5 separate regions of the Homo sapiens genome follow, and all the other regions are linked to region 2. The links come from fine-mapping of genetic effects on gene expression. A gene starts in region 2. Each other region holds a variant in brackets. All regions are shown on one strand. Distances are from middle to middle.

Region 1 (5,097 bases), 23 kb before region 2:
AGGGCAGCAGAGGGAGGGCGGCGGCAGGGCACTGACACGGGACAGGCCCCAGAGCAGGGCAGCGACACCAACCCCCTAAGAGCCAGGAGGAAGCAGGCGGGCAGGATGTCCCCAGGCCAGGAGGATGGTGTGATGGGCAAGGGTATTAGCAGGAGAGGGGAAGGGGCAGGGCTGGGTGGCACGCTGGGGCGGGAGCCAGGGCTCAGCGGCGCTGGGGAGAAACTGAGGCCCAGGATAGAGTGGAGGAGGTGAGCCGGGTCCCTACACATGGGACAGAACCAAGTGGCTCAGGAAGGCTCCTGACTCAGGGTGCAGGGGCTCGCTCCCCGGGTCCAGCTGGGCAGGAGGAAGGAGAGTCCCAGAGGGGCCACGCGCATCCCACGGGCCCCACACCAGCGGGGAGGGCTGAGCTCTGAGCATCGATGTCCAAGTCACAGAGAGGGAGCTTCTGACCCACTGCTACCCAGGTGTACGCCAACAGCTGAGGTCCCACAGCCCTGTGGAAATGGCCTTGGGGGCTCCTGGGGACAGGCAGACTCTCCCGGGAGCCTGGGAGGCCACAGCAGGTGTCCAGGAGCCGGAGAAGCAGGAACGCTGAGACAAACCCCAGGGCCCCAGCAGCAGCTGCCGTCCCTCACAGCCACAATGGAGCCCTGCAGCCTCAGCGCTCCCTCCCTCCTGTCTGCCCAGGCTCACTGTCCCGGCGCCCTGGCTCCGCCCGGACACAGGGGCAGTACCTCAGCCCGGGCCGCCTCCCTCCACCAAGTCCTCGTGTTTCTGATCAGAGGTCACTTCATGGAGGACCTCCTGACCCCACACTGTCCCCCTGGGGGTGGCTGCCACTCTCTGCCCAGACACAAGGCGAGGCCCAGCCTGGGCCGAGGAGTACGTGGCTCTAATGCAGCAGCTGGCGGGGCCTCAAGGCCTGCAGGGGTCACTCCCCGCGGCCCCCAGACTCCTGCCCCGATATAAAGGGCTGAGTGGCGGCCACCCCAGGCAGGCCCTGCACTCTGCAGCCCTGTCCCCAGCCCCAGTCTCAGCCCTTGCACTGAGCTCCCTGGCTCCAGGCCACCTGGTCCCCAGGGGCAGTGGCCTGGGGCACTTGACGAGCTGCAGGCAGGATTTGGCCAAGGCCTGTCTCCCTGCAGGTGCTCAGGAGAATCTGCTGGTGACAGGAGCCTCTGAGGGGCTGATGGGATAGGCCCTCTGTCCCCAAATGTGCACTGGGAATGGGCTGTGCACACTCCCAGGGGGGTGTCAAACCCTGCAGATCCCTGCCTGAGGGCAGCCCCCAAATCCCAGCTGGGGCTTCAACCCAGCGCCCTAGCCCCAAAGCACTAACTCCCCCACCTCCTCCTGCCAATCCCCCACCCTTGGCATTGACACACCAGGCAAGGCCCAGTGTGCCCCTCCCCCGATGCACCGGCACCCTGCGGGCCCCGAGCGCCCGTGGGAGGCACTCACCATCGAAGCTGCGCAGCTGGGTGGCAAGCATGGCCTGCAGGACGCGGCTGCTGTCCCGGAGCGCGGTCTCCAGCTCGGCATGGCTGCGGTTGGCCAGGTTCTCCTCCATCTCGCTGGTGCAGCAGGTGTAGCCCTGGGGACAGATCCGCAGGTGCTCACCTGTGGGGAAAGGCCAGTGTGAGGGAGAGGGGCTGGGACAGCACTGGGAGCCAGGAGGGCACCCTCAGGCTCTCCTGGGCAGGATGGCAGACCCAGGGTGGAGCACAGCTCAGGGGTGGGCCAGCCTGGGGGGTGCCCTGGGTGAAGGCAGAAGTGGTCGGGGTGTGGAGGGAGGAAAAGGCCTGGCTTCGGTCCCGTAGCTTCCCACACGTGACACAAGAGCACGGCTGCCTCTACAGGGCAGGAGGCCCCTTGGGCAAGTCCTGCCCCCCAGCCTGCTGTCCCAGCAGCTGCAAGCAAAGAACTGGCCTCAGGTTCCTGTGTGCAAGTGTGGAGAAGGCTCCCAGGCCCGAAAGGCACCCCTTGCCTGGGCCCATGTCTGAGGATGGGGAAGGAGGAAGGAATCCAATCCCCCTCTCTTCCCACACCAGCCCTGGGGGGCACCAAGCTCCCACTGCAAGGACGGCAGATCCCACCAACAGTGGGCTGGTCAGAGGCAGTGGCCCTGCAGGACCCCAGGCACGAGTCTGGTATGGGGGCAGGTGTGCTCTGGTGCAGCTGGCAGGCCCCATGAAAGGGTCATTGGACCATGCCCCAAGCCCTGCAGGGTGCACCCTGTGCCTCCTGGTGTCCTTGTGGAGTCCCCTCCTCTGCAGCCTGCCATGAGCTACTCTGCTCCAGCGTCCGAGGCAGTGACAGCGGCACTGCCATCAGAGACAGCTTCACCTCCTTGTGGGGAGTGGGGACAGGACAGGCTTTGAGTCAGCTCTCAGCCCTGCTGTGCACACCTCAGGGCCCACCTGGAATGGGTGTGTGGCATCAGGAAAAACTGCATTTTTTAAAGGGTGTGCATCGCACTGTGATGAAGGCTGCCGCAATCCTCATTTTATTAACCAGAAAACCGGGGCTTACAGGGATGAGGTCTCGTCCCAGCTATACAGTGAGGGGGCAAGTGGTTCCGGCTGCCTAAGCTCAGGACTCCACACTGACGGGGCCACACTGTTCCTTCTGGGCCTCGTCCCCCGCCTCTAAGGCCCTCCTGGTGCTGGCCTAGGTCAGGCACAGTGGAGAGGTGGAAGCAGGAGCCTGGCTTGGTCAGAGGGGTGGGGTCAAGGGGGGG[CG/G]TTGTCAGCAGGAATTCCAGCAACTTTCCTCAGGACTGCCGCCTCAGGGGCCTGTCTCATCCTGTTCTGGGACCCTGGGCCAGGGTGGCTGGAATGCAGCAGGTCCTGCATTCTTTTACGCCCTCCTGAGGGTCAGCAGGAAGTGAAGGCCAGGCCAGGGAGGAGAGGCAGGAGAGGGAGCCAGGACCGGGACCGAGGGCGGGGTCAGCCCGGGCAGAGGCACCTGGCTCGAGGCTGTCCTGGGGGAGCTGGCAGCAGCTCCAGCCCTGCCTGGAGGTGGGAGCAGGGATCTGTAGCCCCACTGCAGGCAGGGCCTGGAGCAGCGCAGGCAGTGCCCTACCCGCTTACTGCAAGAGAAGTCACCCCTCAGGCCTGGGGTCCAGGAAGCCCTTACCCACTAGAGGCCATCTGGGGTGGGGACCCAGGACTAGGTAACTACCCAGAGGTTGAATGCCTGGGTCAGACTGAGTTTGCTGATCTTCCGCACCCTCTAAGTACACACACTCAGGGAGGAGCCCGAGACAAGAGAAGGGAACAGAGAACCCGAATCCGGGCTTGGGCGGCTGCCGCTTGGCCCCTGTAGCCTCTGTGCCTGCTGACATGACAGCAAGGAGACAGGTTGTCAGAGGGGCCTGGGAGAGCGAGGGAGGGCCGAGGTAGGGGTTCTTATCCTGGAGCGCTCCCTCCTTGCCCTCTTTTCCTGTCTGAGTTCTGGAATGTACTGATGCAGGGGGCTCTGGCTTGAGCTAGAGGGGGAGGGAGTCCTCCGCAGGGGCTGCAGGTCCAGGGATTCCCCAGGGCCTGGACTTACATGTGCCCATGCTGCAGACAGAGCGGGAATGGCAAGTGCACCTGCGCCCCCCGCCCCTCCTTACCTCCAGATGCCTGCTGGAGGGGGAGTTGGGGGTCCAACAGAGTCTGGGGCCAGGAGGGCCTTGTGGGAGCCAGCTGGGGTGAGGACAGAGCCCGGCTCTGAGAGCCCTGGGGCCTAGTAGAGAAGGGGTGCTCCTTCCCCACTCCTCACATGGGTGGGAAGGCGCCCTCAGGCAAGAAGACTGGGACACAGGTACACTCGCCAGGGACCATCCTTCACTCTGCAGCCTTTATTCACTGATGGGATTCTGCCCCAGTCCCACCCCCGTGGGGGCAGGATTTAGAGCAGGAACCGCCCCTCCGGGTCCTTTCCTGGGGCCTGTGCCAGGCTGAGCAGACTCAGGAGGCGTCTCTCCGAGGGTGTGGGCTGTGATGGGGCCCTGTGCACCCATCCAGGCTGCCCAGACCAGGAGAGCACAGGTCAGCCGGACACATGATGGTAATGGGCTGGGCAGTGGGAGGGAAACGTGCCTGGGGGAGGGGGTGGCAGGTGCCAGCTGAGCTTCCCGGTGACACACCCTGGGCTCAGCTGAGATGGGCTCAGCTGTGACGGGGCACCCAGGCCAGGCTGGCTGGGCCACAGGAACCGAGTGAGCTGGTCCAAGACTCAGGACTAGGGCTCAAGCACTCCTAGGGAGGAGGGTGGGTGGCGTCCCCCGCCGGCTCCTCCTGTGCCCCTCCCTCGCGAGGTCCCGGCGGACCCACTCCCCAGCCCCCACCACGCAGACGGGAGAGGCTGACGAGAGGCATGGAGAGGTGAGGCCCGAAACACCCGTAAGATATGGGAGCTCCCCCCACCTGCAGGTTCTGAGGGGCTCCTCGGCGCCGTCAGCCACCTCTCACACCCCCTCACGGCCGCGCACCGGCCCCCGCGCCTCAGCCTCCCCCGCCGACCCCTCAGCCCCGCCCGGCCAACTCGCCCAGCCGGCCCGGCGACCTGCGTTGTTCCAGCTGCCCCAGCACAGCCCCCGTCCCTCCCTCCCTCCTCGGACAAGCACGGGAGTGAAGACACGGAGCCAGAGCTCGGGCGCCGGCCTGGGAGCCCCCGGCAGGCTGGACGCAAGGCGGGCGAAGGCCTGGGAGCCTCGGGCAGGCTGGATCGAGGCGGCCCCCTGAGGCCCGCTGCAGGCTGGACGCACGGCAGTCAAAGGCAGGAGGCCTCCCGCTGGCTTCCTTCTGCGGAGCTCCGGCCCGGCGCAGGCCGGGGCCACAGGTTGTGGTCCTGGACATGAGATGGCAGAGGCCGGCTCTGCAGAGTCCCCCTGCAGGGCGGCAAAGCAAGCCCCCTCCTGGAAGAATGCCAGGGGCTGGGGCCTTTCTGAATGGAGAGCAATGTGCCCAAGACCAGCTGTCATCTTAAATCTCCCCACCCAGGGGCCTCCCCACCCCCAGGGGCCTCCCCACCACTTCTCTCAGCTCAACACCTGGGGATAGAGAGGCCTCAGGCCAGGAGGGAACCCTCCCCATGTCCCTCTCCCTC
Region 2 (5,097 bases):
GGCCAAACTCTGCCACTCTGTCTCTCTAACTGGCAACAGTGGCCTGTGGATGCAAGGAAGGTTAGGTTGGCTCCTAAGGATGCAACTGCCCAGAGGACATGGAGGTGCTAAGAAGGGCTGGGGGCTAATGGTTTCCAAAGGAGCAGGGTTCAAGACTCTGGGCTGGGAGGGGCAGCCACTCAGCCACTCTGCTACCCTGGTGCCTGGGGAGGGATTCACCAGGAAGGCCAGGGATGCCTCTTTATGTGTGAGTAGAGGGGCAGAGAACGAACCCAACTGTGCCGAGGGCCTTGTGCTGCCTGGCATCCAGGTGTGCCCCCTACCTGGGACAGACAGAGCCCAGTGGGGTGAGGGGGGCAGCCTGGAAATGACAGGGTTGCCTCTGCAGAGGCACAGGAAGGCCTGTCCTGGGGACTTTGGAGGGGTCCTTGCAAGAACCTCAGGCTGGTGGGGAGGGCATCGGGAGATCCGCCAAGGGACTGTCTGCGGGTTCTGTTCCTTCTGTGGGGGGCGGTCAGGGGGCCCTTACAAGAACCTCAGGCTGGGGGCATCGGGAGATCCACCAAGGGCAAGGGGCTGTCTGTGGGTTCTGTTCCTCCTGGAGGGGCAGGGGTCCAGAGCCCGACTGCCTCCTCCCACCACTCCGCCCCCCGCGGCAAGGCATGGCCACAGACCCCCCTCACCCAGATGCACGGATCCTTCTTGCTCAGAATCCCCAGGACCATGGGCATTTCTGCGCTGAGTCCCCATCTGAGTAGCCCTCCACCCGCACTCCCACTCCCCTGGTTTCAGAGGAGCCCCCCAGAGCAGGAACCTAGTCTGTTTTGTTCTTGCCCACTGGGTCCCTGGCACGCGGTACAGACCGAGGTTGGTTCCCACACGTGGAAAGGTGAAGCTTGGGTTCCAAGAGTTCCTTAGCACACGGAGCCCACCGTTCCACCCACCCGTACACTTCTGTCCCCAAAGCTCCTCCGGGACCACAGGGAGGGAAGAGGCAGAGCCGCAGGCGGCTGCAGGGCTTAGGGGGCGCCAAGAGGGCCGCTGTTCTTACAAAGAAATGACACGGCCCCTGGGCGGGATCCAACGCGCCGACCACCTGCAGCTGGACTCGCGGCACGAGGCTGCCCAAGCGCCAGGCGGGGGCCGGCGCGTACAAGTTCTTCGACAGGAATCTCTACGAGGCGGCGGCGTTCCGCCCGCGGATAAGTGCCCAGCTCCCTCCCCACCCCTCCGCACTACCCCCCGAGGGGGTCAGCTTATAAAACCCACCTAGGCTGCCTTTGCTGGAGACCCTACGAGAATCCCCGGGCAGGACCGGAGACGCCTCCCAGAGAGGTCTGTACAGAGCAGAAGGGGTCCGCGGCCACCGTCAGCGGCGCCCCGAAAGCCCGGCCACGCCGAGCCCCACAGCGCCCCGACAGCCGGCCCCGGGGCTGGGACTCCCGGCCTGCAGGCGCGCTGGGCCGAGCGGCGGGCAGAAGACGCCCAGCTCCAGCCGTGGCCCGGGAGGAGCGCCCCGAGCCCGCAGCCCGGCGAGATCAGCTCCGCAGGGAAGAAGCCGGCGTGCGGGGGGCGGGGAGGGGCGGAGGACGACCGAGCGGGGCGGAGGAGACCCTGGCGAGGGAGTGCGGCGCGGGGCTTGGAGGCGAGGGCCGTGGGGTTGCAGAGGAGCCGCAGCGCAGGGAGCCATTCGGGGCCCGGGCGGCGGGGCGCAGGCGGCAGGATCCCGCGCCGGGGGCGAGTAGCCGCGTCGGGAAGACCAGGGTCCGGAGCCCAAAGCCCGGCCAGGCCCGGGTTCCCGGCGCCGCGCCCTCACTCACCCGAGATCTCCGCCTGGGGCACGTCGCTCAGGCTGAAGCCCTTGGCTCCGTAGATCTGGCGGACCTCGCCGCAGCTCCGGCTCTTGCTGGCCGGGTCCCCGCGGGCGCAGGCGACCAGCGCTGCGGCCGCACATAGCAGCCACCAGCCTCGGGCCCGGAGCTCCATGGCGGGGCCGGCGGCGCCCCCGGCCACCCGCCCGCGCCTCTCTCGGATCCTGGCCGGGTCCTGCGCAGTTCCCGCCCGCGAAGGGCAGAGCCAAGGTCCCGGCGCGCGCGGCTCGCGGTCCAGAGGCGGCGGCGGCCGAGGAGGCGGAGACAACAAAAGCCGGCGGCGGCGGCGGCGCGGGGCGCGCGGGGTGCGAGGTCCGAACGCTCGCTCGGGCAGCCCAGAGCGCGGCGGGCTAGCGCAGTCCCGGCTCGGCGCCTCCCCCGCCGCCGGCCCGGCCCCTAGGCGGCCGCGGGAGAGGAGAGGGGCGGGGCAGGGTGGGAGCGCAGGGGTGGGGGAGGGACTGGGAGCACCGGGCGGGGCGGGGCGGGGCGCGGCGCGGGGGCGCGGGCCGGGGCGCACTGGGCGCTCCTCTGGCTCTTAGGGACCCAGAGGGCCCGCCTGGCCGCGCGACTCTATCGATCCCCGGCGGGAGGCGGCGGAGCCGGGCAGCGCGGGGCCGCGGCCGGGGTCCCCGAGGGCGGCCCCCCACGCCCAGCGCCCAGGGCGGTGGCACCACCTGTGGGGGCGGGGACGGGGGCGGAGGGTGCGCGAGGCAGGGCTTCCCCCGCCGGACGTGACATCACGCCTCCCGCGCCCCAATCAGGGGCCTCCCCGCCCCCAGCCGAAATCGGCATCCCGCTCCCCGCTCCCTCCCGCGCGCTCCGGCTTCCTGCACCCTGGCAGCGCGCCCCGAGAACGCTCTCCCGGCGCCTCCGTACCCTCCGCCCGCCGGCCGCGCCTCGAGCCGCCGCCCCTCTCCCCGCCTGCACCCCGCAGCGGCTCCCTCCCCGCGCCCTTCCAGCCGTCTCGCGCTGGGCTCCGGCTCGCACCGGGGGCTTTTGTGGTGTGGGGGCTGCACGCAGGAAACTCGCCAAGAAACTCGACCTCACCTCTCCCAGTCCCAGGGAGCGGCAACAGATGGCTTAATTGTTGGACCTTGACAGCTGTTTTGGGGGGGTGACCCTCCACGTTCTTTGGATGCTGGAGAAACCAAAGTGATGGGGCAGGGCCGGTCTACTGGTTTGGGCTGCTGGGTGGGGCCAGATGACCTCTGGAGAAGGGATAGGGTTGGAACCCGGCGACTAGTTAGGCCACTGGGGGAGGAGGGTGGAGTGAGCCGGAGCAGATGCCTCTTTGAAGAAGGCGGGAGGGCTGCCTGCACCTTGTATGGTAGGAGGGCGCGTGGCTTTAGCTGCACATGGGGAGTTGGGCTGGATGGGGTCTGTAGGGAGGGGGCGAGGACTGCGATGTTGGTGTCTGGAGGGCTTCACTCCTTCCTTGGCTCCCAGACCCCCCACCCCGGCCCCCTGTTCTCCACATGGTAAGGCCTGGCGGTGAAGCCAGGTGCCTGAGCTGCAGAATTGGGGGCAGGCATAGAGGTCAGTATCCTTGGCAGAGAACCTCAAGATGACCCCCATGTACAGCAAGGGTGTCCTGATTTCAGGGCCTGTGGCATCACCTGGAAGCTGCAGCGGGGTCCGTGGTGGGGGTGGTGGCAACATTCCCTACCCCTTCTGTGCCTGGGGCTCTCAGCCGCTGTGTGGGGCTGGAGCAGGAAGGTGGGGTGCCCTCCCCCTGGGCTCTTGGGGTTTCCTGCCCTGCCTCCCAGAGAAGGTTGCTCCTTCACCCAGAGACACTGAGTCATTGCTGGAGAGGGAGGCTTTGGGGACCCAATCCAAGTGTGCATTTCCCTGCCCTCCCCCACATACCCTCTGCTGCGTCACATTTTGTGACTCACAGACCCCTGTTCAGTACATGCTCCAGGCTTGCTCCTTCTTGCCTGGGCCTGGCGTGGCTGCCTGCACACCTTATCCAGCACGGTCAGGAGCCTGGGCCCACGATCCCGCTCTCTCTCTGTGTGGTCTCACGCACTGCGGGATCAGGCAGGGCTGCCTGGGCCTAGGAAGCTGGACTTGAGGTTAACCCGGCCTGAGGCTCTATAGTTACCCCGTCACTGTCTACGCCTCCTCTTAATCTGACCAGGTTGGGTTATTCCTCCAGGCAAGTCCTTCCTCCAGCCTAGTTCTGGGCCTCTGGATGGCAGTGTGGACAGCAGGGCTTAGAACGCGATGGTGGCAGCCTCTGCCTGGCCCTGGTGACCCCTGGGTGGCTTCATCTCCTAAGGAAGTCCTTACCACCATCGCAGGTCCTGGAATCATTCCCATTCCGCAGGCCAGGAGACCTGTAGCCAGGGCCTTCCCTGGAGAGGATGCACATGCCGCCGGGGGCATTGGAAGCAAAAGCCGTGTTTGCACCTGGGAGGAGCCGCAGGATCCTGAGCAGCTGCAGCTACCCCTGCTTCCCTCCTGGCAATGCTGCACACGCCCGCTGTCACCAGGGCAGGAGCCGCCAGGCTGCCCGTGCTAGTCGGGTGCAGGGTCCAGACTGGGACTCTGGGAGGATGGGCAAGGCTGATCAGCCCCCTCTTCCACCGCTGTCCCTGGGGCCGCTCCACACAGGACACGTGGATGGGTTTGAGGACATAGTTGATGCCTCGAATCCCAGCCACCACAGTGACCCTTGTGGCTCTGACCAAGACCACCCCCTCCTGCTTTGGTGTCTTTGCCTGGCTAGACAGTGGGGGCACACGTATGCGACACAAAGAAGGAATGAATGAGCAAGTGAGGAAACACCTGAGAGGAAAAGTTTGTCCCTGAGAGTGGGCGTGTGGCGCAGCCTGGACCTGCTCTTCCACAGGTGCAGTGAGGGCAGAGGACACTTAGCATTGTCTGACGGGCTGAGGCAGGCAGTGCCTGTTGGGCCAGGGCGTGGGGGCCTCCCTTCCATGCCCCCATCTTCTGTGGAGGACCCCAGGTCCTGGAGGGCGTGTACTGCTGGCTTAGGGCCCACTCCTGCCTCTGCCTAGGGAGGGTGGGGGTCTGCGGGATGCTGAGCCTGGTCTCTGCTCAGAAGACACAGGGAGCGCCGGGGGGCCCGCAGCTCCCAGCCGTTCGGACGGCAGGTCTGCCCAGAAATTATCCTACTTTTGCTCCGTGGAACCCTCGTGAGTGTGCACGCCCTTGCCCGCTGCCATGGACGGACAGCTTCCCTTTCTGTTTGGTTTCAGGG
Region 3 (5,097 bases), 61 kb after region 2:
TGGTTTTCCCGGAGCTCCCGGCTCGCAGGCGTGCTTAGGTGTTTCATCTGGCTCTGTCGCCTTGTAATTAGTATCGGTCCTCCCAGGCTCCGGTTCCCATCTGCCCATCTTCGTCTCCTGATAGGAAGTGTCTGTGTTTGTGTCTTCATGGGTGTCTGAGGACGGGACTGGAAGAAGCAGCTGGGCTGTGGGGCAGGCAGCGTTTTGACCTGAAGCTCTCTGAGCAGGCTGATCACTCAGGTGGGCCGCTCACTGCACACCTTGGACAGTGAGGCCCACGGGGGTCCCAGGTGGGGCGCCTTCCCCTCCCTTCCCAGGCTGGGGATGGAACGGGGCTCCCCAGGCTGCCACTGCCCATAGTCCCCAGCCCTGACTTTCCTGGACCTTTCTTGGCACTGCCAAGTTAGCTCCAGTGTGGGAGAGCTGGTGAGGACCTGGCTGCAGTCAGCACTTCCTAAACTGACCTTGTGCTCTGGAGCCCTGGACACATGTACCTTCCTCCCAGGAGGCCCTCTGCCCATGTAATAAAGATGGAGGCTCTCAAAGGGGGCAGAGAAATCATCCCTTCACACTCCTGGACGCAGAGGCCAAGTGGGAGCTGCTGGCACAGCCCTTTCTATGGAGGGATGGGGCGTCATGTTGCTTCACGCAGGCCAGGATGGCCCTGAGATGCCTCTATGGGCACCGCTCTCCAGCGAAACCTCTCCAGCCAGTCTGCCCGCTGCACTCCTACTCCGAGGTGAGGTCCCCCAGTGGCATCCCTCCTGCTACACCAGCTCCAAGATGTGACTCCTCAGTGATGTCCCCAGCAGCCCTCCTGCTGCACCAGGGGGCTGCTCTGTTCCATGTGGTGGAGTCCCAAAGGCCGGGCTGTTACCAACGCCTTGTTCTCTCCACACTCAGGTATGGGCCAGCATGTCTGGTAAGTGGTCCTTAAATGTTTTAGGGAAGGAAAAGTCCCAAGACCTTGAAAAAGACAAGTCACAGAATGAAAAACAATATTCCAACATATGTAACTGACGGGACTTGGAATCTAAAATATGTAAAGAGTACTGGCAAATCAATGACAAAACAACAGGCAACTGCACAGAAAAGCAGTCAGGGCACTGGGACAGGTGGTTGGCAGAGAGGAGACCCAACTGGCTATAAGATGTGTGCACAGGGACCAGCTTCTTGGTAACCAGGGAGACTCGCATCAGGACTGCAGTGGGTCTCCACCATGCTATCTCCTGGTTGGCAGGGGCTAAATGCTGACAGTACTGTGTTGATGAGGCTGGAGAGAAATGGGGCCTTTCATACTCTGAGTGGAAGTCACTGAAGTGACTTTGGGAACTGGCTGAACAACGCCTGGTCAACTTGAAGATGTAGATTCCCTGACTCAGCGGCTTTACCCTGGACGTGGGCACCCTGCGGAAATCGGGGCACGTGTGACGGCAGCACGATGTACACACACAGGAGGTCATGGCAGCCTTGCTCCTGGTAGCTGGAAGTCAGAAACAGCCCATGCGGTGTCAGGAGAATGGGGAAGTGCATCGCGTAGGGATGGAGGCGAAGAGGGGCTCGTCGATTCATCCGTAAACGGTGCCCACGCTGTCTGCGGGCCCCACTGCCTGGGCGTGCCATGCGACTGGGCCAAGCAACTTCTCGACACCCAGGCTGGGGAGGGCTTTGCAGCAGCTTGAATCCAAAGAGCGGTGGGGAAACCGAGTCATCATTCTGTAGCAGCTGAGAGCGTGAGTGTGCAGACTCAGGGCCCGGTGACACTGAGTTTCAGCCGAACAGCCTCATTCGGCAAGTGAGGTGAAGGGTAGCTTTGCTGGCTCTGTGTGACTGTTTGCATTTCATTTGCAAACACCTGGCTTTATGTTGCAGTATGCTTTAGTGTGATGAGCATGATTTCAGTCCACCCCGAGCATAGCACGAGTCCTATTCTCCTCTTAAAGACCCCCAGAGGAGCTGCTTCAGGGTTTGCTCTCTGGGGAGGAGCTGGGGTCACTGAGGAGGGGAAGCCCAAATCTAGAAAGTGGATGGCTCTTGGAGTGTCCCGGGGACTGCTGGGCCTTGGACAGGAGGGACGTGGCTGTGGTATTCTGAGGCCACTGAGCTGGCACGGGGCTGGACGCTCTGTCCTCGTCCTGACCGAGGTGGCTGCCACCAGACCCTCCTCGGGGCCAGCGTCCAGGAATCTGGGCACTTCCTCCCCTGAGACCCTGGCCCCACCCCGAGGCCCAGGGATCCTGGAAGAGTGTCCTGTGAGTGTCCGAGGGCAGACTTGCCAGATGGATTCCTGCACTGGGGCTGGGAGGCGTTCCGAGTGCGGCTCTCCCTCAAATGACAGCTTGTGATAGCGAGGCCGGCTGCATCATTCCCCAGGAATTCCCCTTGGAACGCATGCTGGCTCCAGGCTGCTCCAGGCCCCAGGCTGGCATCAGACGACCT[C/T]GGGCCAGGCCTCCTCCCCATCCTCCTTCTCTGGTCCCTTGAGGAGGGGAGGACACTTCTTCCTGAGGGCTGCAGCTCCCACACAGGCACCAGAAGCTCAGAAGCTCAACTTGGTGACATCACTGGGGCCTGGCCATCCCTGAACTCATCCCTGCTGAGTGGGAAAGGGCGAGGGCCTCACAGCCATGTCCGCCTCTAAGCTGGGAGCCTCGGGAACCCCCAGGCCTGAGTCACAATGAGACCAGAAAGGCCAGGCAGGGTCAGCATGCCCAGCTTGCCCTGGTACCCCAGTCCACCTGGGTCCAGGGGTTGGGAGGGGAGGCCAGGAAGGGTCAGCACGTCCAGCTAGCCCCAGTACCCAGGCTCACTGAGGTCCAGGGTTTGGGAGGGGAGGCCAAGCAGGGTCAACACGTCCAGCTAGCCCTAGTACTCGGGTACTTCTCGCCCTCCCTCCTAGGAGCCTCAGCCTGGGCTACTTCCCAGACCCTTGTTTTTGATTCCTCATCTTGGTTCCAGCACCCCAGGGGCCCAGCCAGAGTCTGAGAATGAGTACTGTCCATCGAAGGGGCTACCACCCGTGCGTGTAAGAAATGGTGCAGCCTCTGAGTGCTGTGTCCCGGATTGTCACAGAGGCCGCGCACTCCAGCATCTGTGTCCAGGCCACCTTGTGTGTGTTTAAGAAACAGTGCAGGCTCCGTCCGAGTGCTGTGTCCCGGATTATCACAGAGGCCGTGCACCCCAGCACCCATGTCCTGGTCCCCACAGCACCTGCGCAGATGCTGGGCTCGGGCTGGTGGGCTTTGGTCTAAGGAGCCTGGAAAGCCCACAGGTCCAGAGACCTGAGCAGAGTGGTGGGCGGTAAAGGGGCCGGGGAAGCAGGTACAGACCCCTGCCGGCCCCCGAGACTCGGTCCGCTGAGGCTGCTGGGCTGGGACCTGCATTGGCCTAGAAGATCCAAGCTGAGGCAAGAAGCGTGGCCTGTCCATGGGGAGTATTATGGACTGAATGTTTGTGTTGCCCCAAAATTCTTTAGACAGGGTCTCCCTCTGTCGTCTAGGCTGGAGTACAGTGGCATAATCATGGCTCACTGCAGCCTCAAACTCCTGGGCTCCAGCGATCCTCCCACCTCAGCCTCCCAAAGCTCTGGGATGACAGGTGTGAGCCACCACGCCCAGCTCCCGAATTCTTATGTTGAAATCGAACCCCAATATGACGGTTTTAGGAGGTGGGGCTTTGGGCGGTGATGCGGTCACAAAGGCGCTGCTGTCATGAATGGGTCCCGTGACCTTGTAAGAAGAGGCCAGAGGGCTCCTTCCCCTTCCTTCTGCCGCTTTAAGGACGGAATGAGAAGTCGGAAATCCACAACTCAGAGGACAGCCCTCCCCAGACCCCGACCAGGCTGGCACCTTGATCTCCGGCCTCCAGCCTCTGGGCTGTGAGAAATAAACTCCTGATGTTTACAAGCCACGCAGTTCATGGGGTTTCCTTACAGCAGCCCCAACAGGAGTGGCCCTGGGGGGACCTCCACAGCCCACCCACCACTTCCCACCCTCCATGGCCCTGCCCTCCGTGCCCTGTCCTTCCCCATGCCCCTCCCCCCACCACAGCCCTGCTCCCTCCTTGCCGTGCTCATCCTCCACACCCATGCCCCTAACCACAGGCCTGCCCTCCTCTATGCCCCTTCACCCCTACCACAGTCCTGCCGTCTCCACACCCTGCTCCCTCCATGGCCTGGCCCCCCTCCACATCTTGCCCTCCATGACCTCCCCTCCTCCACACCCCTGCCCCTCAACTACAGCCCTGTCCTCCTCCGTGCTCCTTTTCCTGTCTACAGCCCTGCCCCCTCCATGCCCTGCCCCTCTGCCACGCCCCTCCCCCCACCACAGCCTGCTCTCGTTGCCCCCTCTTCCCATCCCTCCCACATCCCTCTCCCACCTGCCCCTCTCAGGGACTTGAGATTTCCTCCGCAAGAAACCTCTGTGGGGCTTCACCAGGCCTCTGCCCTACCCAGGCCTCAGGGTGGGTGCGCCTGGGACTTCAAAGGCCCAAGGAGGGCCCCAAACTGGCTCCTGCCCAGGCCCAGAGCACAGATCCTCCTTGTTCCCAGCCCAGGCCCTCCCCCAGCCCAGGCACACAGCGGTCTGGAGGAAACCCTCTGGTGGCCAGCCCAGGGGACCCCCACGCCCCAGCACCCCCACCAGGACCACTTCTGGGCTCCTCTGGGGTCCTGCAAGCTTGGCCCTGCCCAGGACCCTCTCAGGCTGGTGCTGGGCCAGTGTTCAAGGGTGGGTGAAGGGCAGAGAAGGGCACCTCTCTTATTTCTGGGGCAGTCATGGCTGCAGCAAGTTCCAGAAGCTTCTGCAGAGACTACCTGGTGAAGTCTCAGAAGACCCAGAGAGGCAGCCACCAACTCAGCCTAGAAACTCAGCTCAGACTGGCAGAGAGGGCAGCCCTAGCTTGGGGGCCCAGGCCAGCGGGGAAGACTCGGCCAGCCCCAGGCACGGCGGGCATCATCAGGACAAAATGCCAGGCTCCACGCCACCATCCAAAGTCCCAGAAACAGTGGCCAGCTGTCCAGGGCCCGCCACACCCGAGCCCACCTCGCCCTCACTGCTCTCCTGACTCCTGTCCTTCAACTCATTGGCCTGCTGTGGCTTC
Region 4 (5,097 bases), 32 kb before region 2:
AGTAGTGGCTTAGGGCAGGAGGAAGGTGGACTGAGAGGTGGGAGTTAGTCGTCTGTCCCAAACTCAAGGGAGCACTGCGATTATAAATGGTGTTTCTCGACAGAGGGCCTTGTCCCCAGATAAAGAATACTTAGGGTCACCTGGACAGGAGCAGTGTGTGCACCCACGGGTGTGTCTGTCTCTGTGTGAGTGCATGCGTGTATACTGTGCATGTATGTAATGTGTGCATGTGTGTATGGGCATGTGTACCTGTCTACATGTGTGCACGTGCATAGGCCTGTGCACATGTGCATGCATGTGTATGGGCATGTGTACATGTGAGTGCATGCATGTGCAGGAGGATGTGTGTGCACGTGTATGGATATGTGTGCTTGTGTGTGTATGCACAGGGCATTGTACGTGTTCATACCTATGTGTGTGCATGTGTGTACATGTGTAGGAGTGTGCACATGTGCATGGGCATGTGGGCATGTGAGGACGTGCATGTGCAGAAGTGTGTGCACGTGTATGGATATGTGTGCTTGTGTGTGCATGTACAGGGTGTTGTATGTGTTCGTTTGTGTGTGTAAATGTGGAGTGCACATGTGCATGTGTGTGCACCGTGTGATGGGTGTATGTTCGTGTGGAGCAGACACCCATGCTGGCCTGCCGGGGCTGCCTGCAGATGGTGTGGGAGACGCTGGGGCCACCCACCACGGCTGGGCTGAGCTGCTCAAGGGAGGCTGACTGAGGGGCTGCTCTCTGCCCATCAGTGTGGGTGGGTCAGTTTGTCTGTGGCTTCTGGAATTCCTGTGAGGAACCGAGAGGGACTGAGAGCCAGCCCTGGCTGGAAGGGGTCTCTCCCTGAGCAGCCTCTTGGGGCAGCACTAGGGTGGGCAGAACTTGGGAGCTCCCTGGTGGTCTGAGGTGTGGCCGGGAAGGCAGGGCTGAGACCAGCCGGGTGCCCCTGCCCACCCACTCCTGGCGTGGTGTCGGCTCTGCACAGAGTGCACACGCACCTGTGTCCTCCTTTCCCTGACATGAAAGATGCATTTGCCCAGGTTCAAAAAGGGCTTGTGGAAGTCTTGAAGCAGCTGGGCAAGGTGGTGCCTGGAAGCCTGAGATCCTGCCGGCTGGACCAAATGCGTTGTCCACAACTACAGCCGCTGATGAGTGTCTGGCTGCTCACCTGTCCCCTAGGGGCCCCGCTGAGCCCCCAGGCTGCATCCCCTGGCCCGCCACGGAGAGGACTCCACCCCACCCTCATTTCCCAGGGGAGGAGCCGGGCCTCTGGGACTTGCGGAGGGGCCTGCAAGTGAGGACCGTGGCTACCAGGGACCTGGCGGCTGCAGATGCTTTGTGGGAGGCCTGTGTGCAGCCCTTCGTCCTGCCCGGAGCTGGGACCTACTAAGCAGTGGAGTTCAGCAGGGCTGGGTGGAGCTGCATCTCCCTCCTGGGGTGCCCACCCACCCCTCTGTGCTCTCACGCTCACAAGGGGCCTGGAGGTCCCAGTTGCTAGGGGGCCCTCTATTCCTGGGTCCCAGATGATGGAAACGCAATGTTAAAAATGTTCACCAGACCAACCTGTACTGGCTGCAATTCTCAATAAAGCAGTTGAGGGACACACCCAGAACAGTGGGCGCTTCTGCCAGTGCCGCCGTGCCACTTAGCCTCTGGCCATGACCCCACAGGAACAGGAGCGGGGCTATAGGGAGCCCCTAGGGTTATACAGGACCCTCCGCCTCGAGAGAAAGGTGGCTGGGGACAAACTGGACCACCAGGGCATCCTTGGGACAATGCTGGTTCCTTCTCTCTAGCCCCTTGGGCATCTCTGAGGCCACCTGGCAGGAACCAGAACCTTCCAGGGGTAGAGGATCTCTGTGCTGTGTGTGCCCAGAGCAGGGGCAGGAGGCAGGAAGAGGTAGATGGGAGGTGGGGCCTGCTGGAGGCCATCTGGGTCTCCGTGCCCTGGCCTTTTCCTTCTCCCCTGCACCAAGGAGAGGGGCGGACAGACCGGAGTCTGTCCAGGGCAAGGTGGAGCTGCAGACAGGCTGAAGGGCGCAGCTGGCAGGGGCTGCACGTTCACCCCAAACACGGAAGTGTGGTCCATGCCCAAGCCCCAGACAGACAGACACACACACACATACGCACACATTCTCTCTCCCCCCGAGGCCTCGCCCTGCTGTAGGTTTCCAGCCTTTTATTCATACAAGGACTCAAAAGAACACACGTCACCCGCTGACACTGAGCGGTGGGGGGACCTTGTGGAGGAAGGACACAGCAGGCTTGGCCACTGCCCTGACCAGTGACCACTCAGGGCTGCCCCTTCCAGAGATGAGCGTAGGGTGGGGTCTGAGCGCCACCCCTAGGCCGTCTGTGTGCAGCGGGAGTGCTGCTGTCCTGGCGCCCGGCATCACTGTGCCAGAGTCCCCAGCCCACCCTGGCACTGGCAGGGTTATTATGGGGTGGACTTGCCTGTGTTGGGGGCTCCTGATCCCAAAACATCTAAAGTCAGGTTCCAGAGAACAAGCCATGGGGACCTGACCAGCAACCGGGGACCTCC[G/A]TCCACTGTGCGGGACGGTGATGAAAAGCAAAGCAGCACTAAGCGGCCTCCTCAGGGTCAGTCGGTTCAGGACAGCTGCCCCCAGACCCTCCAAGTCCTCCTCCCCCTGCAGGACCCCTTCCCAACACCACACCACCCCTCCCCAGGGCCGCCTGGCAGCTGGGGCACAGGAGGGAAGGAGGGCCCGTCCAGGCCTGGGGCAGGGCCCTGATGGCCTCAGTGAGTGACAGGAGGTCACCAGGGTCCAAGGTGGGCCCTGCGGCCCTCCGAAGCCATCTGGGAGGAGCGAACAGCTCTCCATGAACAAGGACAGGAAGTGTCAGTAAATGGATGCATGTTTGGAAAAGCCCTTAACTATCCAGGTCCCCGTGCCCTGCAGCTGGCTGGGTCGGGAAGGGACCTAGGCATTCCCGTCTGCAGTGCGGGGTCTCACCAGCCACCAGCATCCCTGTGAGCAGGTGACAGCTGAGGGTCACTCTGAGCCCTGACCTGTGTCACCGTGAACAGGGAGGCCCTGGTTCCTGATCTGGGTGAGGATGGGAGCAGGCGGGTCCTGGCTGCTCCTCAGCCCTCGGGGTCCTCCAACAGCCCTGGACCCCAGCAAGGCCTGCCCTGTGAGCCCTGTGTGCGAGGGGCAGCCCACATTGGCAGAGCCCACGCTGCCTCCCTGGGCCTTTGGGCCCAGCTTCCCCTCCTCCAGCAGAAGCGCAGGTGGGTCAGTGGCCCCTCATCTGCGCATGGAGGGCCCCTCACTGCAGGTCTGTGGGAGGACAGTCCTCAGACTCCTCAGCAGTGGTGCTGTCTCAGGCGTCACCCTGCAGACGCTGGGGCCCCTCAAGGGCGCAGGGAGGTGGGGCCGGGCTCTGCAGCCTGCGCTGAGGGGAGGGCATCATGCATCATCTCAGAGGCTCTGCCAGACCCTGGATGGCGGACACCCAGACAGCCCGTGCGGGGCTTCTCTGGAGGCTGGGGGGTGGGCCAGGGCTGGCTGGTGGGCTCTGCTGGGAGTCCCAGTGGGAGGAGGCGGGGAGGAAGGCACAGGCTCGCTGTGGGCTCCAGCGGGTTGCTTTGAGGCCTCCTCTGTAGGCCTCGAGGGGCTGCTTCTGCGGCGGTGCAGGGAGCTGGGGGGAGGGCTAGGCAGCCGGAGGTGCCCCTGAGGTCCCTGAAATACATGGCTTTTGGGCACACTGGCTCCCAGCTGACCTGAGGACCTCATACAAAATTAAAAGGCAGAAAGGCAGGCGAGGCCAGGCCTGGGGCTGGGACCTCTGCGCCTGCCCCTGCTCAGAGCCGCCGGCCCTCCCTGTCCCACCCCAGGCCTCTCCAGGCTGAGGTGAATTAAATATCGTCTGTGTTGTATTTTTGGCAAAGTCAGTCCTTGGCCTCTGTCCCTGGGGCCTTGGGGCAGTTACCGCCACCGGGGCCTGGCTACTGTAAGGGCCAGGAAGAGGAGGAGGGGCAGGAGGAAGGTCGGGGGCTGGGGGCAGCTGGCAGCCGAGGTCTTCTGTCCTTCCTGCTCTGACAGGCCTGGGAGGGCATGGGTCAAGGGCGTCCGGGAGCTGGAGCTCTTCCTGCTGACCTTCCGGCTGCAGAGGTCATCCAGACAGCCATCACCGCTGCCCGAGCCGCTGCCGTCGTCACCTGGGAAGGAGAGGAGGCTCCGGCAGGCAGGTCCCCACAGGAGACCCCAGTGCAGCACCACCCTGTAAGGGCCCGTGCCAGGTGACCCCAACATCCTTTCGGTGTGGAATCCCAGGACCAGCAGCACCTGATCCCCGCTGACCCCTGAGGCTGGGAGACTCTCACTCCCTGGGGCTGCCTCCCTTGGTCCCTGGAGCCAAAGCCAACAGACATCCCGGCCAGGCCTCCAGGGCGCCGCAGAGGTGCAGGGCTCGGTGATCGTGCCTGGGCAGCACAGCGTCCTCAGACTCACTGTGGTGATGCCGGAGCAGAGGGCCCCTCGGGTGGGGGAACCCGGAGGGCAGTCACACCCCTGTGGCACCCCCACCAACCCTGGCCCCTTGGCCGCCCGGCCAGGCCCTGCCCTCACTGGCGTCCTGGAAGTCCACGTCGTTGCCGTTGTAGGCGCTGCGCAGCCGGTTGGTCATGATCTTCAGCTGCATGATCTGCTGCCGGATGGTCATGTCCGGCTTGGTGATGTCCACCTCCACCTCGGGGTTGTTGATCTGGTTGGCCAGGCCGTCACCCATGACCTCGGGGAGGTACCTGGGGGAAAGGCAGGCAGAGCCCAGGTCACTGCTCCAGCCCCTGCAAAGGGCCATCACCTGAGCAGGACACTCTCCCACGCTCTGAGCCTGAGATGCCCAGCAGCTTCCAGGGACCGAGCAGAGCCCACACAGGCCGCAGAGAAGTGGGGCTCAAGCCCTCCAGCAAGGGACGTGGCCCCGTGCAGACAGCACCTGGCCCAGGCACAGCCCAATGGAGGCGGCATGGGAGGGAGGGCTGTGCCAGCCAGGTGGGCACCTACCGGCCTCTGGCCATCCCGTTCCAGCAGCGGTCATCACTGGCAGTGCTCAGGGCCATCTTCTCACTGC
Region 5 (5,097 bases), 130 kb after region 2:
CTTGTTGCTTAGGAGTAGAGAGGGTGAATGGAAGACCCAATAGTCAGACCTGGGCTAGAGAAGGCAATAAGGGGATAGCACTGAGCCTTAGGCAAGTGGGCTGGCACCTCTTATAGAAGGACAAAGTCTGGCCTCATCTGGACCTGGTCCATGGGATGCTGCCCTCTTCTGCAACAAGGACAGTGAGCCTGGTCCACAGGATGCTGCCCTCTGTTGGAACAAGAGCAGTGGACCTAGTCCATAGGATGCTGCTCAGGTGTTTCTCTCCCTTTCTGGGGGTCAACATCTGTCCCACACCCTTGAACCAATATGAGTGACTCCCAGCACGGCTCTGGGTAACATCTACATCTCCTGCAACAAGCACAGTAGGCCTGGTCCATGGGATGCTGCCCTCTCTTGGAACAAGGCTGGTGGACCTTGTCCATGCGATGCTGTACTCTCCTGCAACAAGAATAGTGGACCTGGTTCATGGGATGCTGCACTCTTCTGCAACATGGATGGTGGACCTGGTCCACGGGATGCTGCAGTCTCCTGGAACAAGGACAGTGAGCCTGGTCCACAGGATGCTGCCCTCTGTTGGAACAAGAGCAGTGGACCTAGTCCATAGGATGCTGCTCAGGTGTTTCTCTCCCTTTCTGGGGGTCAACATCTGTCCTACACCCTTGAACCAATATGAGTGACTCCCAGCACGGCTCTGGGTAACATCTACATCTCCTGCAACAAGCACAGTAGGCCTGGTCCATGGGATGCTGCCCTCTCTTGGAACAAGGCTGGTGGACCTTGTCCATGCGATGCTGTACTCTCCTGCAACAAGAATAGTGGACCTGGTTCATGGGATGCTGCACTCTTCTGCAACATGGATGGTGGACCTGGTCCACGGGATGCTGCAGTCTCCTGGAACAAGGACAGTGGACCTGGTCCACGGGATGCTTCATTCTCCTGGAACAAGGATGGTGGATCTGATCCACGGGATGCTGTACTCTCCTGGAACAAGGGTGGTGGAAGCAATTGGTCATTGCCAAGAGCATCAGGCTGGGCACCTGAATACCTAATGCGATGGCAGGACAGCTTACAAAATCAAGGGCATCAGAAACCCTGGACTGAGGATTTTCAGCCACAGATGGAAAGGCAACCTGTGAACGTCTTGCTCTCTGCTTGTGGTGCACACTTGATGCCTGGCCTTGGAGTATGGAGAGTGAGAGCCACTCTGTGTTGGCAGATCTCTTCTGCAGGTTTAGGGCTCAGGTTGGCCTCCCCTACTCTGCTGTGCACCATCTGACTTACCGAGGGTCTCCATCTCCTTCTCGTAGTCTCTGGCTTTGACAACCTTAGAAAACAGCTAACGAAGGAAGAGTCAGTGGTGACCAGGGGCTCCCTTTTGAATCAACTAATTGTGATAAAATATTTGACCTGGTTTCACTAAAATATGAGAAGACCGTTTTTATTCCCAAATGGTGGGCCCCAGCAGGTTCCTCCCCCTGGCCTGGCCCTAGCCCCCATTGCCCCCAGGACACAGTGAACACTCACAGCAGGCACACGGGCTGGCCACGATCCTGTCCCTGCTGGTGTCTCTGATTTCCTCATTCCTGCCCCCAGCTTACCCTCCTCCCTGGCATGCAGAGCCATACGTGGTCCTTTGAAGCTCTGTGGCCTCCGAAACTTCTTGTCCTTGGTAGGGGCTGTGCTCTGTACCCGGAGCCGCTTCTCTCCCTCCCCTAGCGGGTGTCCTGCACTCCCTCCTGTCGGAACTGTTAACGCTCAGCCGTCATCAGGTCCTCCCAGCCCCTGGGTTCCTGGAGGGCAGAGCCTGTGTCCAACTACCTTTGCCTTTCCAGCACCCACCCCAGTGCCTGGCACAGAGCAGGTGGCATGAAGTGAGTATTGGGTGGACATATGAATTACCAACAAAAAGAGAAGGGCAGTGGGAAAGGACGGGTTTTGTCCCAGGCTGGGGAACGTACTCATCAACCCTTGTGTGTGCTGGTAAATGTTGAACAACGGACTCTCAAAGAAAAAACAAAGTCCCCTATTTCTAGTGTTTGCTGATTCCCATGGTGTAAACACTCCTGGCATGGCTGACTTCAAGCTGATGATGCAGAGATGGGAAGAGGACAGTGGGCTCTCATGAGCTGGCACGAGCTGGCTCAGGCACACGCTGGCGCTGGGTCAGTCCCCTGTGCCAGGCCCTGGGGGCTGTTTCTCCATCTGTCGACTGTCCTTCGAATGAGGCCCCAGGGAGCTGTGAGTTCCAGGCCCAGGCATACTCCTTGTTCATGAAGTGGATAGGACCCTGAGCTGGAAAAGTCAGGGCAAGCAACTGAGATCGGCTCCCAGAGAGTCGGGAAATGGCCACAAGACCAAAAGCCATGGCTGCGAGGCTGTGTGCTTCAGAAAGTGGCCCTGAAGTGTCCATTCTGGTCTGAGACTGGATTCAGTGTTTCCAGCCAGACTGGTCTCCCGTTCTCCTGCTGTGGCCTGGGACAGGCCCAAGTGAGAACATCTTGTGCTGGACCACAAACTCAGCCTGAGCTCCGGATGGCTGGGAGGGGCCCCCAGCCCTTCCTCAGAAGGCTCTGGCTCACGTCACAGGCATGCTCTGCCTTTCCCGGTGCCCTCGGCACCCCCACCAGTGTCTGGGGCATCGTTTTTGTCTATCTCCCTTCCCCTGATCCCGAGGCCCAGACTCCCGCCTGGCCTGTCAGTCAAAGGCTCCCTGGCCAGGCAGGGTGCTGTTCTGATGCCTGAGGACCCACCGTGCAGCAGGAAAGGGCCGCTCACTCCCATCCAGACAATTGCCCAGGAATGCAGCTGGTGTTGGGCTCTGTGCTGGCTCTGGAGACTCAGCCAACACCTGCCTCCTGGGGGTCATGGTTTTGGGGTCTGGGAGCCTGCTTTCACAGTTTATGAGGCAGCTCACACACAGCCACCAGGTGCACGATTGCAGGAGTCAGAGGGAGACTGGGGAGCATGAGAATGACAAGGGTGCTGTCACAGGCCAGGGCCCAGAGTTAACT[C/T]GTCCCTGTTGAGTGGCAATCAGCATTTAATTTGCTTTGCCACCCGCCCCACTTCTCTCTCTCTCTCTCTCCTCTCTTTCTCTCTCTCTCTCTCTCTCACACACACACACACACACACACACACACTCACTTACTCTACCATTTTATTACTGCTGCCTGAGATGGTAGCTATGGATAAAGATAGAGCCCTCCACTCAGAAACACTTTTTGAGGCTGAAGTGAAAGAACTCCCACTTCAGAAATTACAGGGAATGTCTGTCTTCTAGGTGGAGACTGACCAGGCATTCGAGGCAGAGCCCCCATGTCTGCAAGGGCCGCCCTGTGGGACCCTTGTCTCCCAGCTGGAAGCCACCCACATCCTGCCTTGGGGAGAGCTGTCTGCAGGCTGGTGACGCGCATGAGCTGGCTTTAGGCTGGGATGGAGGCACACCCTTTGAACACACTTGGCCGGCGGGGAGCTCAGCAAAGGGACCACACTGTCTTGGTGTTTTTTCTAAACCTGAGTTCGGAACCCACTGCCCTCCTTCTTATTTTTGGAGGGGTGTGCATCCTAGCGCTGGTCCAGGAGATGAGTGGCCCAGAGCCGAGCCTGTCTGGTGGGAGGCCTGGGTGGGCCTGGCCACTGTGACGTGGCTTCAGCAGTGACAGTGATGGTCTCATTCAGGGGACCACAGAGTCAGCAGCACCCCCTGGAGGGAGAGGATGGGCTTTCTGCTGTCCCCCTGGAGAGAGGGTCATGGGGAGGAAAAGGCTCACGGTGCCCTGGGAGGGCACTGCCCAGTGGGCCAGCCTGAGGTGGGCCCTGACCTGGGTGTTTTCAGGGGTGCTGGAGTGGGAGGCAGGGGAGACACGAAGGGCCTGAGGAGGAGGCTGCCTGGACAGGTCTGGAAGGCATGTCTGGGTCCCCAGCTGATGAGGTCGAGGGAGCTCCACGCTGTGCCCCCTGTAGCACCATGCCTTGCCAAGGCCCTCATCAGCATCCAGGCAGGCTGAGGAGCCCGGAGGAGGCCAAGGGCAGAGGTGTGGCCAGGAGGTCACAGGTGCCAAGACATGCGGCCAAGGAAGGGACAAGGAAGCTGGGTGCAGCCCCTGCAGGAAATGCCCAGAAGGCCTGGACGGGGCAGCTCTGGGGACCGTTTCTGGACCTCAGACCAGCAGGGCCCATCCACAGGATTCCAGACCAAACAGGAAGTGTGTGTAGCCTGGTTCTGGGACCACAGCCTGTCAAGCGGAGGACACTGAAGAGCAGGCCACGGGCTGCACTCCTTGGACTCTTGTTTATGTTCCTTTTGCTCCTTAAATTAAAATTGGACACAGCCTGTGCAGAGGGTCACTTAGAATCACGCAGAGGCCACGTGCACACACGACCGTGTGCTTGCAAATGATCCTGCATGGGGGGCTTTGAGGCCCGGTTTGCCCCTTAGACAGTGCCAGTGCCTGGAATTTATATTTGTATTTCTATCTCTGTTATTTATGTTCATGTGCTCCCCCCAGCAAAGCTAAGACAGGAACTGGCCTTTTGAATCACATGGGCACCATCCTGACTTGACTTGGAATGTTCTAGAACAGGCCTGCCAACATGGAGACCGAGTCTCGGTAAGGGAGCTGCAATCAATGCTGCAGAGCACCTGTTTTTCTTCCAGGTCTCTGAGGTGAGCAGGGCTCGTGTTCCGACACTGCTTCATGGTGGGCGTTGTAGGCAAATCCCCTGAAAAGGTTTTTCTTTCAGAAAAAGAAAGACTTTATTCCATTGAGCAGTCTGCAAACCAGGGAGACGTAGCCTTTGGCATGAAACAAAAGTGTGTTCTGAGAGAAGAAAGAGAGGGGACGTCATTTATAAAGTTCCCACCCAGGTTCCCACTCTGGTCCACTATGAAAATGCGGGATACAAACTTGCTGAGCTCTGATTGGTTGGCACAGGCGACAGCCCATGGTTGGGTCCAGATGGATTTCCCAGGAGTGGTGGACAGGAACAGGCAGCTATGGAAGCCCCAGAGTGCTGTGAGTGTGGGGTTTTCTGGGAGCGCACAGTATGTGTGTGGCCTTTAGTCAGCAGATGGTCTCTTGGCTCTGTTTTGAAATT

Direction of the effects. Alleles are on the strand shown, and positions count from the first base shown. SD is a standard deviation of normalised expression in the study named. Not every link is listed here.
For the expression in testis of the gene that starts at base 2,242 in region 2, C is the low allele of the variant in region 3 and T is the other (small effect, 0.34 SD a copy in GTEx).
With allele T in place of C in region 5, the expression in neural progenitor cells of the gene that starts at base 2,242 in region 2 is higher (large effect, 1.0 SD a copy in Aygun 2021).

Evidence for each region. PIP is the estimated chance that this variant, and not a neighbour inherited with it, causes the effect.
Region 1: its variant is fine-mapped to the expression of GPC1 in minor salivary gland (GTEx, PIP 0.95). The same link has a PIP of 0.9 or more in prostate.
Region 3: its variant is fine-mapped to the expression of GPC1 in testis (GTEx, PIP above 0.99).
Region 4: its variant is fine-mapped to the expression of GPC1 in tibial artery (GTEx, PIP 0.95).
Region 5: its variant is fine-mapped to the expression of GPC1 in neural progenitor cells (Aygun 2021, PIP 0.92).

The regions. Positions count from the first base shown.
Region 1 is chr2:240,455,556-240,460,652 of GRCh38, reverse strand. GPC1 (glypican 1) reads right to left here. Exons shown (of 9, transcript NM_002081.3): 2 at 1,465-1,623. GPC1-AS1 (GPC1 antisense RNA 1) reads left to right here and starts at 3,953. Exons shown (of 3, transcript NR_161169.1): 1 at 3,953-4,056. It overlaps MIR149 (microRNA 149), which reads right to left and starts at 4,652; the gene lies at 4,564-4,652. RefSeq lists enhancers at 797-1,447, 1,448-2,097, 2,098-2,749, 4,702-5,097. The variant CG/G (reference allele first, on the strand shown) is at 2,744.
Region 2 is chr2:240,432,808-240,437,904 of GRCh38, reverse strand. It overlaps GPC1 (glypican 1), which reads right to left and starts at 2,242. Exons shown (of 9, transcript NM_002081.3): 1 at 1,821-2,242. The coding sequence starts at 1,986. RefSeq lists enhancers at 1-241, 293-869, 2,603-3,179, 3,579-3,873 and silencers at 1,994-2,053, 2,114-2,773.
Region 3 is chr2:240,371,721-240,376,817 of GRCh38, reverse strand. No RefSeq gene overlaps it. Among named protein-coding and RNA genes, the nearest start is that of GPC1, 61 kb to the left of the region's middle. RefSeq lists enhancers at 2,236-2,790, 3,241-5,097. The variant C/T (reference allele first, on the strand shown) is at 2,440.
Region 4 is chr2:240,465,144-240,470,240 of GRCh38, reverse strand. It overlaps GPC1 (glypican 1), which reads right to left. Exons shown (of 9, transcript NM_002081.3): 7 at 5,031-5,097; 8 at 4,593-4,768; 9 at 2,165-4,183. The coding sequence ends at 3,951. It also overlaps a transcript of ANKMY1 not described here. Among named protein-coding and RNA genes, the nearest start is that of GPC1-AS1, 11 kb to the right of the region's middle. The variant G/A (reference allele first, on the strand shown) is at 2,543.
Region 5 is chr2:240,298,164-240,303,260 of GRCh38, reverse strand. No RefSeq gene overlaps it. Among named protein-coding and RNA genes, the nearest start is that of GPC1, 130 kb to the left of the region's middle. The variant C/T (reference allele first, on the strand shown) is at 3,015.